Homo sapiens: one gene and its partner. The protein of the gene in region 1 purifies or fractionates together with the protein of each later gene. This does not show direct contact. Each region holds a gene or a part of one and is shown on either strand. Other genes may lie near its edges.

Region 1 (4,947 bases):
ACATATTTTTTGCATATGAAGAACATGGCTGAGGAGATTATATACAGAAACATAATGGTTGTCTGGGAGGTAGGAGGGCAGGGGACAGGAATGGTGGGTAGAGTGCATTTGCTTTCCTTGCTACCTTTCTGAGGTGCTTGCACAAATTTTCTTTGAGACAGGGTCTCGCTCTGTTGCCCAGGCTGGAGTGCAGTGGTGTGAACGTAGCTCACTGCAGCCTCAAACTCCTGGGCTCAAGCAGTCCTCCCACTCAGCCTCCTAAAGTGCTGAGATTGCAGGTCTGAGCCACCGTGACTGGCCAATGCTCGAAATTTTAAAAAACAAATTCTGTATTACTTTTTCAAACGGAAAAAACCTGGCTTCTTAAACTTCAAAACAAATTCCAGATGGCAGTAATTATAAAATATCCACACAATGGAATTTTATTCAGCCATAAAAAGGAACGAAGTCCAGATACATGCTACAATATGGAGGAATCTTGGATATATTATGCTAAAAGAGAGAAGCCAAACACACAAGACATAACCCTGGAAATGAAATTCAAATCAAAAGTACACGGAAGAACCGACTGTGGGAATGCTGACAATGCTGCTGTTGGAGAGACTCCAAATATGCAGCCAGGAACTTAGCAACACGCAGAAACTTAGTGACATAAAGAAGTGAAAATCCAAACTTATTGCATAAATGAGGAAAATTGTTTTGGAAGAAGTGATGCTAGCAAAAATCTCTTTCTGTATTTGTCAGGAAAGATCACTTTTACTTCGGCTCCTAAATAAATCAGACGAACAGTTCCTAGGACTTTATAGGTATATTTAAGATTATCTCTTGTATCTCACTAGCTTTTGTTTTTTTTTAAGACATGGTCTTAATCTTCTTGACAAATACAGGTATTTCATGACACTGAAAGCACAAAGGAGGCCGGGGGCAGTGGCTCACACCTGTAATCCCAGCACTTTTGGAGGCCGAGGCAGAAGGATCACTTGAGTCCAGGAGTTCAAGATCACCTTGGACAACATGAGGAGACCCTGTCTCTACAAAAAAATGAGTAAAAAAAGCCAGGTGTGGTTGTGTATTCCTGTAGTCTCAGCTACTCAGGAGACTGAGGCGTGAAGATGGCTTGAGTCCAGGAGTACAAGGCTGCAGTGAACTATGATCATGTTACTGTACTCCAGCCTAGGCGACAGTAAGATCCTGCCTTTAAAAAAAAAAAAAGCAGCTTCCTGGACCTGCCCAAGACATGTCAATCAGTCTCTGGAATGGAGTCAAGGAACATGAATTTCCTATTTCTTTCCCAAGTGATTCTCATGTGCGCTTAAAGTTTATGGAAAAGATGGACAATCAGACTATACAAAAATGCTAAAACTTGCACAGTAAAAATTATACACACATATCACAAAGTAGAAAATAAGACCTTAAACATTTTTAAATGGCTAACTTTTGGAGAATTTATACAACCAAGAAAAGACAAAATACAATTTTTTTTTTTTTTTGAGACGGAGTCCTGCTCTGTCGTCCAGGCTGGAGTGCAGTGGCGCGATCTCCATCTCAGCTCACTGCAACCTCCGCCTCCTGGATTCAAGTGATTCTCCTGCCTTAGCCTCCCAAGTAGCTGGGATTACAGGCGCGTGCCACCACACCCAGCTAATTTCTGTATTTTTAGTAGAGATGGGGTTTCACCACGTTGGCCAGACTGGTCTCAAACCCCTGACCTCGTGATCCGCCCGCCTCGGCCTCCTAAAGTGCTGAGATTACAGGCATAAGCCACTGTGCCCAGTTGACAAAATACAAACTTAAAACAAAAAAAGAATATGCCAACTCAACTGGAAAAATCCCTCACATTGCACACACTCCACAATTCTGATAAATCTAGCCTTGTTTTCTTCATGTATTTTGGTATTGCCATTTATTATTATTAAGGTTCTCGTCCCTCAGAATTTGCTATGGAATAAAAATCTGTATAGTGAAGAATTAACCTCACCCGAGGAGAGGTCTGGCCTTTGCCCCTGGAATTTCCTGCTTGGTAAAGAGATCTCTGCCTGGGGGCTCTGACCTGCGGACCATTAACAATGTGACTCACGATGCGGACTTTGGATGATCCCACTATCAGTTTGGTCTCTGGAGGACTGGACACTACAGATGTCAGCCCCTCTTGTACTCTGCCCTTATGAGTCTTTTCCCTTGGCTTACTTTAAATTGTATTCATTCCCTGTAATAAACCATAATCATCAGTGTAACAGCTTAAAGTGAGTTCTGTGAGTCATTCCTGTGAATCACTGAACCTAAGAGTGGTTTTCGGAACCCACTGAACTAGTATATTGGTGCCAAAACTGAGGCAGTCCTGGGCAGTGTTCCCTGTAATTTATAGTTCACTGAACTTTATTTTTTGTCTGCTGTTCTGAAGGTACATCATGACTAAACTTTTGAAGATGGTGTCAGAGGTGAGAACAGTGTTAGGGACTGTGCCTTCTAACTCTCGCAAAATCCTTTTTAATTACAAAAGTAAACCACATTATAAAGAATTTGGAAGGTTTTCTATGACCACCCTATTAAAAAAAAAAGAGTCTCTTGAATTCAAGCCCATCACTGTCCCCATCTTCTGCTTTTTCTTGCCAGCAAGAATCAATGCCTGGTGTTCATTAATCGTGTCCCCTCTTCACAGCTGAATCTCTAGCACTTTGAACAGTCTGGTACATAGTGGTTCAACTAAAATCTGTTGAATGTACGGGATAACTACACAGTGGCAGCATTCTGTCAACCAATCCTCTCCTTTCTTCTTCACTGCCCACAGGAACAAGCGCCTCTTTTGCTACTCAAGCCAAGTCGAGAATACACTGAACCAATTCTGAGCTCTCATCATCCAGGACATAAATATCATGCGGAACTCTTTTAAACGAAGATGAAAATTATTTCCCTCTCTATAAGATGGGATTTTGAGCTGGGCGCAGTGGCTCACGCCTGCAATCCCAGCACTTTGGGAGGCTGAGGCAGGCAGGTCACAAGGTCAGGAGATCCGAGACCATCCTGGCTCACATGGTGAAACTCCATCTCTATTAAAAACACAAAAAATTAGCCGGGAGTGGTGGCAGGCACCTGTAGTCCCAGCTACTCGGGAGGCTGGGGCAGGTGAATGGCATGAACCCGGTAGGCGGAGCTTGCAGTGAACCGAGATGGCACCACTGCACTCCAGCCTGGATGACAGAGAGAGAGACTCCATCACAAAAAAACAAAAAAAAAGAGATTTTGAGCAAAATTAAACTACAGCCTACACACCGTATCCTGCATATTAAAAAAAATCCAACTATGCTAAAAAGTTAATTCAAATAAGCTTTTTTCTAAGATTGAATAGGTGAGAACACTTAAATTCACCACTGTATCCCAGTCTCAACATAAAAACGATTGTCTTTGTATAAAATATTCACTTAATAGATCTCCAATGGAGTCTTCCACATTTTTGGTGTAACATGATGCTATTATAACGCAAGTCAGGAATCTCAGGTTGCACCTCAGGATTGTCTTTTAATTCATTTGATCACAAAAGTATCTCAGTCAAAAAACAGTTTACAAGGAATGATGATAAATATTTCTAAATTACAAAGGACACAACAGCAAACCAGTTCTAAGCTTGAGTGCTTGAGCTCTCCCATTCTCTGGAAAGGAAACGGAATCTGTAATACACAGAACTCCTTCCCAGGGTTAATATGATTTTTTTTTTTTTTTTTTTGAGATGGAGTCTCCCTCTGTCACCCAGGCTGGAATGCAGTGGCGCGATCTCGGCTCACTGCAAGCTCTGCCTCCTGGGTTCACGCCATCCTCTTGCCTCAGCCTCCCGAGTAGCTGGGCCTACAGGCGCCTGCCACCACGCCTGGCTGATTTTTTTTTTTTTGTATTTTTAGTGGAGACGGGGTTTCACCATGTTAGCCAGGATGGTCTGGATCTCCTGACCTCATGATCCGCCTGCCTTGGCCTCCCAAAGTGCTGGGATTACAGGCGCGAACCACCATGCCCGGCCGTTAATATGATTATTAATGAAATTTAGAGTTGAAAAGTAACGTACAGGAACTATTAGATCACATTTGGTCATTAAGGAAGAAAAGATGTCTTCATACAAGTTTCTTTAAACAATCTGGATTAGGTTTACATTTCATTACATTTACTTGAAGGAAATCAGTTCAAAACAATAAAAAATTTCTATTTAACACAGACTCAGATTTCTTATACAGATTACTTCTGTAACTTTAATATCATTCTTCTTAGAAAAAACTACATTCAGAAAACAATCTAGGAAAATTAATTAAGCATTAATTCCATCTTCAATTTCTGGCATTTTCATTTCCTTTTACCAAGGAAGGGCTTCATTCACCAAGTCTTTTATAACATTCGTACTGAAGAGAAAAGACTGTGAAGAAAAAATTTCTGCAAGATCTTCAAATAAGAATAAAAGGCACACACGGCAATAAAAGCAGGCAATGAAAAGAAATTTTACATTGCAAATATCTTCACTTTATCTACTTAGGTAAATATCTTATGGCAAGGGTATATTATTGTTAAAGGGCAGTATTAAGTATTAAATATATTTACCTAGTCATATATATTTGACACGTCATATATAAAGTAGAGAAATGTAACAAAGTCCACTTTCCCGCCATTAGCAATAGTTCATGCTAGTCTAGTTTGGTTTAATTTCTTTACCTGTCCACTAAGAGGCTGGCTTAGCAAGGAAAACAATGATTTGTTCAGTCACTAGAATTGGGTCTTGACCCTCTATTTCACTGTAATCATGCCATTCTTCATTATACTAAGAAAGGAGCTATTTTATCACTGCATTTTAGATTTTATCAATGGACCACCAAAGCTGGCACTAATTTTTGTTCGAGGGAAATTAAAAATGGAAGTACCAGTTAGGCATTTTGCCTGTCAAGACCACTATTTTTATTTTTTAAGCTGTAA
Region 2 (4,947 bases), on another chromosome or scaffold:
AGCTACTTGGGAGGCTGAGGCAGGAGAATGGCGTGAACCCAAGAGGTGGAGCTTGCAGTGAGCCAAGATTGTGCCACTGCTCTCCAGCCTGGGCGACAGAGCGAGACTCCATCTAAAAAAAAAAAAAAAAAAAAAAAAAGTAGAGTTTCATCTTAGACTCTGTGTTTTATACCTCCCCCACTTTTAATTCACACACACACACACAACACACCATAAGGCTAGAAAGATAGTTATTAGTAACTTAAAGAAATGGATTTCTCTCTTCATATTTCCAGTATACAAATAACATCCAAATACTCCAGTAATGTCATAAAGTAAGATGGCTGCAGTCAAGCCAGAAGTAAAACCCAGAATTTCTAACTGCTTTGAACATTTGCCAGCTGATAAGAACGTAAAATTTTACCATAAGGCTAAGTGATTCCTGGGGCCTAAATTGGACAGTCAATGAAGAAGAAGTCTTCAGATTTTCAGCACTGAAATACTTCTGTGTTAAAAAAAAAACCCATGTTTGCTTTATTTTCTTAAAGTTTCCTTTAAATTAAAGCATAGCCAATGAATTGCAAATTTCCCTTTTTTTTAAACAGGCTCCTATTTGTGGATGGCAGTGCTAAGAAAACATGACTACTGATTAGTTTTTTAAAATGGATAAATAATAGTAGTTTTCATAACCAGATTTAATTTGAAAGCTTAAATTATATAGTACTTTGCTGTGACTTTTTAGTTTCTTCAACCCTGTGTTAACACTTCATTTTTCATTGTAAAATATCTCAAGAAACTTTTAAATATCTGTGTAATAAGTAAAAAGTAATGTACATGTAATGTATGATGCTCATGTGGAGTTCTTCAAGCTCTTCCTACAGAGATAAGGAAAGAGGGAAGCCTAGGAATATCTTTCCACCCACTTCCTGATCCTTATACTCCCAACTGGGTACCCAGGGCTAACGTCCTTGACCAGACTCCAGGCACCAGCTTGCATCCCTTTCTTACATGCTCATCCCCAAGGCTCATCAAGCCTTGAAAGAGACAGAAAAGAGAATGGAAAGTAACAACCAGAGACAAGAAGAGGGGGTGGAATTTGGCAGCAGGTGGAAGAGGTTTTGTCTGCATGTCTGGTTATGAGGTGCCTCCATCCTCCTTGACCCATCAACAACTGAGTAATGGTTCATATGTACAGGTCACAAGTAGTCCTAGATTGTAATGTGATCCTGCTTATATTTTGCACACTTTATATATCTGCTGGCATTTTGTTAGGTCTCTAAATATATAAACTCATAAAATTATCATACTTAACATGTTTTAGAAATGCTAGTACCATAACACGGAAAAAAATAAGATGTACCTGCTGGTAATATAAGCATTCATAAGCAGATATAAGCAGAGTCAGTAAGCACAGAGGTTAAGGACACAGACTTCGGGGCCAGGTTGCCTGGGTTTAAATCCCAATTCAGACAGCTTGCTAGATGAGTAACCAGGAATAGTTTTCTCATCAGCAAAATCGAGATGATAGCACTACCTTACAGGGTTGTAAATTTTAAACAAGTTAATCTGACTATAAATATTTAAAACAATGTCTAATACATAGTGCTTTATAAGTATTTGTTCTTGTTAATATACCATGCCACCTTTCTAATGCTGTTTCTTTAGATGGCTCAATCTGACTTGTAATTAGTAGGTTACATTTATACTAATACCACAACCTTTAATGTATAACCACTGGATAGCAAATCCCCCTTCCTCAGTAGTTTTAAAAAGCAAGATGCTTATTTTTTTTCCTCTTTCCCAGGCCCAACACAGAGATACTTTCATTGAAGAACGCTATGGAAAATATAACATCAGTGATCCTTTAATGGCTCTACAGAGAGATTTTGAAACACTGAAGGAGAAAAATGATGGCGAAAAGCAGCCAGTCTGCACAAATCCACTCTCTATTCTTAAGGTTGTGATGAAGCAGTGCAAGAACATGCAGGAGCGCATGCTGTCCCAGCTGGCTGCTGCTGAGAGCAGGCACCGAAAGGTAGGTTCACCTCAGTTGATGTGTAAATCTTTGTGAAGTCTTTATAAATTATGCCTGATACTTTCTTGTCAGCTGCCAGTTTTTCACAGTAATTCAATTGGGACATCTCACGGGTATCAAAAAGCCCCTTAGTTTATGTAAGAGCCAGGAGATAAAAAAGAAAACACAGCTTATTGCAAATGTTAAGTTTAGAGAACGTGCCAGACACGTTATTTAAGACAGCATTTCTTCTTGATATGTCACTCCAAAACACTTTGTATGTTTTTTCAGTTCTTGATCATTCAAACTTTGGGGTTTGGCCAAGCTTGTAGCTGACGGGAGTGTTCTCTATTTGCTTACTTAAGAGATAAATAAAAAGATTAACAGGTATTTGAGGCATGCTATATCCAAGGGAGAGAAAGAATTTACCTGAGGATAAACACAGAAGCCAATAGATTATTTTCATTTATTCCTATTATTCCTAGTTTTGAGTTTCATTGCATTTTGTTGCTCATGAAACCATAAACAGTCCCTTGGTTTATTTACCTTAAAGGTGTTCTACTCTATTAGTGAGGGGTGTGTGTGTGTGTGTGTGTGTGTGTTTTCCATATTTAACAAGCCCTAAAATAGGAAGGCAAACCTTATGGTTATTTACAGTATTTACTTTAAAGCTGTTCTACCCTATTAGTAAAGAGTGTGTGTGTGTGTTTCCATTTCTAACAAGCCCTAAGAAGGCAAACCTGTGCTTTCCTCTGCTTCATCTTACTGGAATTCTAGTGCTTGTGAATTTATTCACCAACTTGTCATCTTGTCATTTACTCCTCAAATTTGGCCTGTAAAAGATGCTTGGCTACAATCTTCATTTTTAAAACACTGTCAGTTTAGATTTATGCCAACAAGGCAGTTATCAGTGCATTTGGTAGGAAACATTTTCATCTGAAAAATAGGGTTAGCAGCTGCAAAATTTGGTGGACCTTACTTTTATGGTTATCAGCATTAGAGCCATCTTCTTAAATTGCATCTGATACATTTTCTAGGCTCTGGATCTTGCCCGTGATCTTTTCTTTCCCTTCACAGAAGCCAAATGAAAGGCCAGAGTGGAACTTCTTAACCATGGATAGGCCTCAGATGTTCCACAGTCCCCCAGAAAATAGACAGAATGTTCAGAGTTTATGCATTTTTGTAGGAAATGTATTTTTTCCATAGCTTTAATCAGATTCTCCAAGTTACCCAAGACCCAAAAATGTTTAACCTCTGGTTAGAATGAAGTAATCTGAAAACATTTACACTCCAATTTAAAAGGTATCAGTGGGTGGGAGTTAGTTGCCTAAATTGGGTGGAGGGGGAGCTTTTACATAATTCTCTAAAAATCTTCACAACATTCTTGTTTAATAGGCAGGCTTTATTTCCACTTCATCCATGAGGTGACTGAGTTGTGTTGAAGCTAGTTGGGCTAGCTTTCATGCCCATGGAAGGTGTACTAGGGACAGTTTGTGTTTCTAGGTGATTGGAGAGAGGAAGAAGTTAAAAATAATTCAAAATTTCTTAATACTATATTGCAGTGCTAAATGTTTTAAGTGAATATTAAATTTTTGAAACAAAGTACCTATCTATTCTTTTTTTTTTTTTTTTTGAGGTGAAGTCTCACTCTGTCACCCAGGCTGGAGTGCAGTGGTACAATCTTGGCTCACTGCAACCACCACCTCCCAGGTTCAAGTTTAAGTGGTTTATCAAAGTAGAAGACTGACTTTGTTAGAAATCAAACAGTACCTAGAGGCTTATAATTAGGGTGCTCATAGTCTCAGCTTATGCCTGTCACCTTGGCTTAGTTATTAACCATATTCCCTTTGACTGTCAGAAATGTTCTGGTTTGAATAATAAATTACATGGTCATTGTGCTTACAATGAAAAACAGTTTTCTATTCCACCTCTTCTCATTCCCCATCCTCCCCAGTATTCACAGGCAACCAGTTTTTTCTTTTAGCCATTCACTTTGGTAGCTAACCTCCATATTTCTAAATACTGCACTGTTCTCTCTTGCTTTATCAATTTTAGACATTTATATTACTTTCTTTTATATAGGTGCAGATTTAGTTATCTTACACCCCGCCTCCCTTTCCTCTCCTTAACCCTTACCCAGAACAAATTTAATCCTCTTTTCCCACCACCATTCTCTGTCACATCTACTATTCCCAAATCCTGAGCCTGTCACACTATTTCTTGAATGTGACAGGCTCAGGATTTGGGAATAGTAGATGTGACAGAGGCCAGATGCTGATGGTCTGTGTGCAGGAATCAGGGTGAAGGGACAAATAATTCTGAAAATACAGGCTTTGAAGGCCAGACACAGTGACTCATGCCTGTAATCCCAGCACTTTGGGAGGCCAAGACAGGCAGATCACTTGAGGTCAGGAGTTCGAGGCCAGGCCAGCCAACATGGTGAAACCCCATCTCTGCTAAAAATACAAAAATTAGCCAGGCATGGTGGCGTTCCTGTAATCCCAGCTACTCGGGAGGCTGAGGCAGAAGAATAGCTTGAGCCCAGGAGGTGGAGGTTGCAGTGAGCTGAGATCACACCACTGTAATCCAGCTTGGGTGACAGAGCAAGACTGTCTCAAAAAAAAAAAAAAAAACACAAAACAAACAAACAAAAAAACAGGCTTTGAGCCAGTTCTCCTGTTTTCTATTCTACATTTCACCTCTCCTCTGCAGTACCTGCCACCTCCAGGTTCCATCTCTTTGGGGCTCTGCAAGGCAAAACAGCTTCCCTCCTTCAAAGTAAAGTAGTTACCACAACTCCAGCCTCTTTTCTTCTTCAAAATATTATTAAAATTTTTTCTCTGCTAGAGGCTCTCTCCTTTGTGGGGTTTTAGTCTTTTTATTCCATTTCTGTAATTTTTGAGGACTCCCAAAAGGGAGAAGATAAGACTTACCACTTTTGGCCAAAAGCATGT

The links.
Region 2: the proteins of PPP2CB (region 1) and CTTNBP2NL purify together in Homo sapiens (affinity purification with mass spectrometry; 7 studies listed by BioGRID and IntAct, with this or other methods). This does not show direct contact.

The regions. Positions count from the first base shown.
Region 1 is NC_000008.11:30,802,345-30,807,291, forward strand, and holds part of PPP2CB (serine/threonine-protein phosphatase 2A catalytic subunit beta isoform), read right to left. Parts: intron 1-4,947.
Region 2 is NC_000001.11:112,447,159-112,452,105, forward strand, and holds part of CTTNBP2NL (CTTNBP2 N-terminal-like protein), read left to right. Parts: intron 1-1,783; coding exon 1,784-2,014; intron 2,015-4,947. UniProt on the Homo sapiens protein: Regulates lamellipodial actin dynamics in a CTTN-dependent manner. Associates with core striatin-interacting phosphatase and kinase (STRIPAK) complex to form CTTNBP2NL-STRIPAK complexes.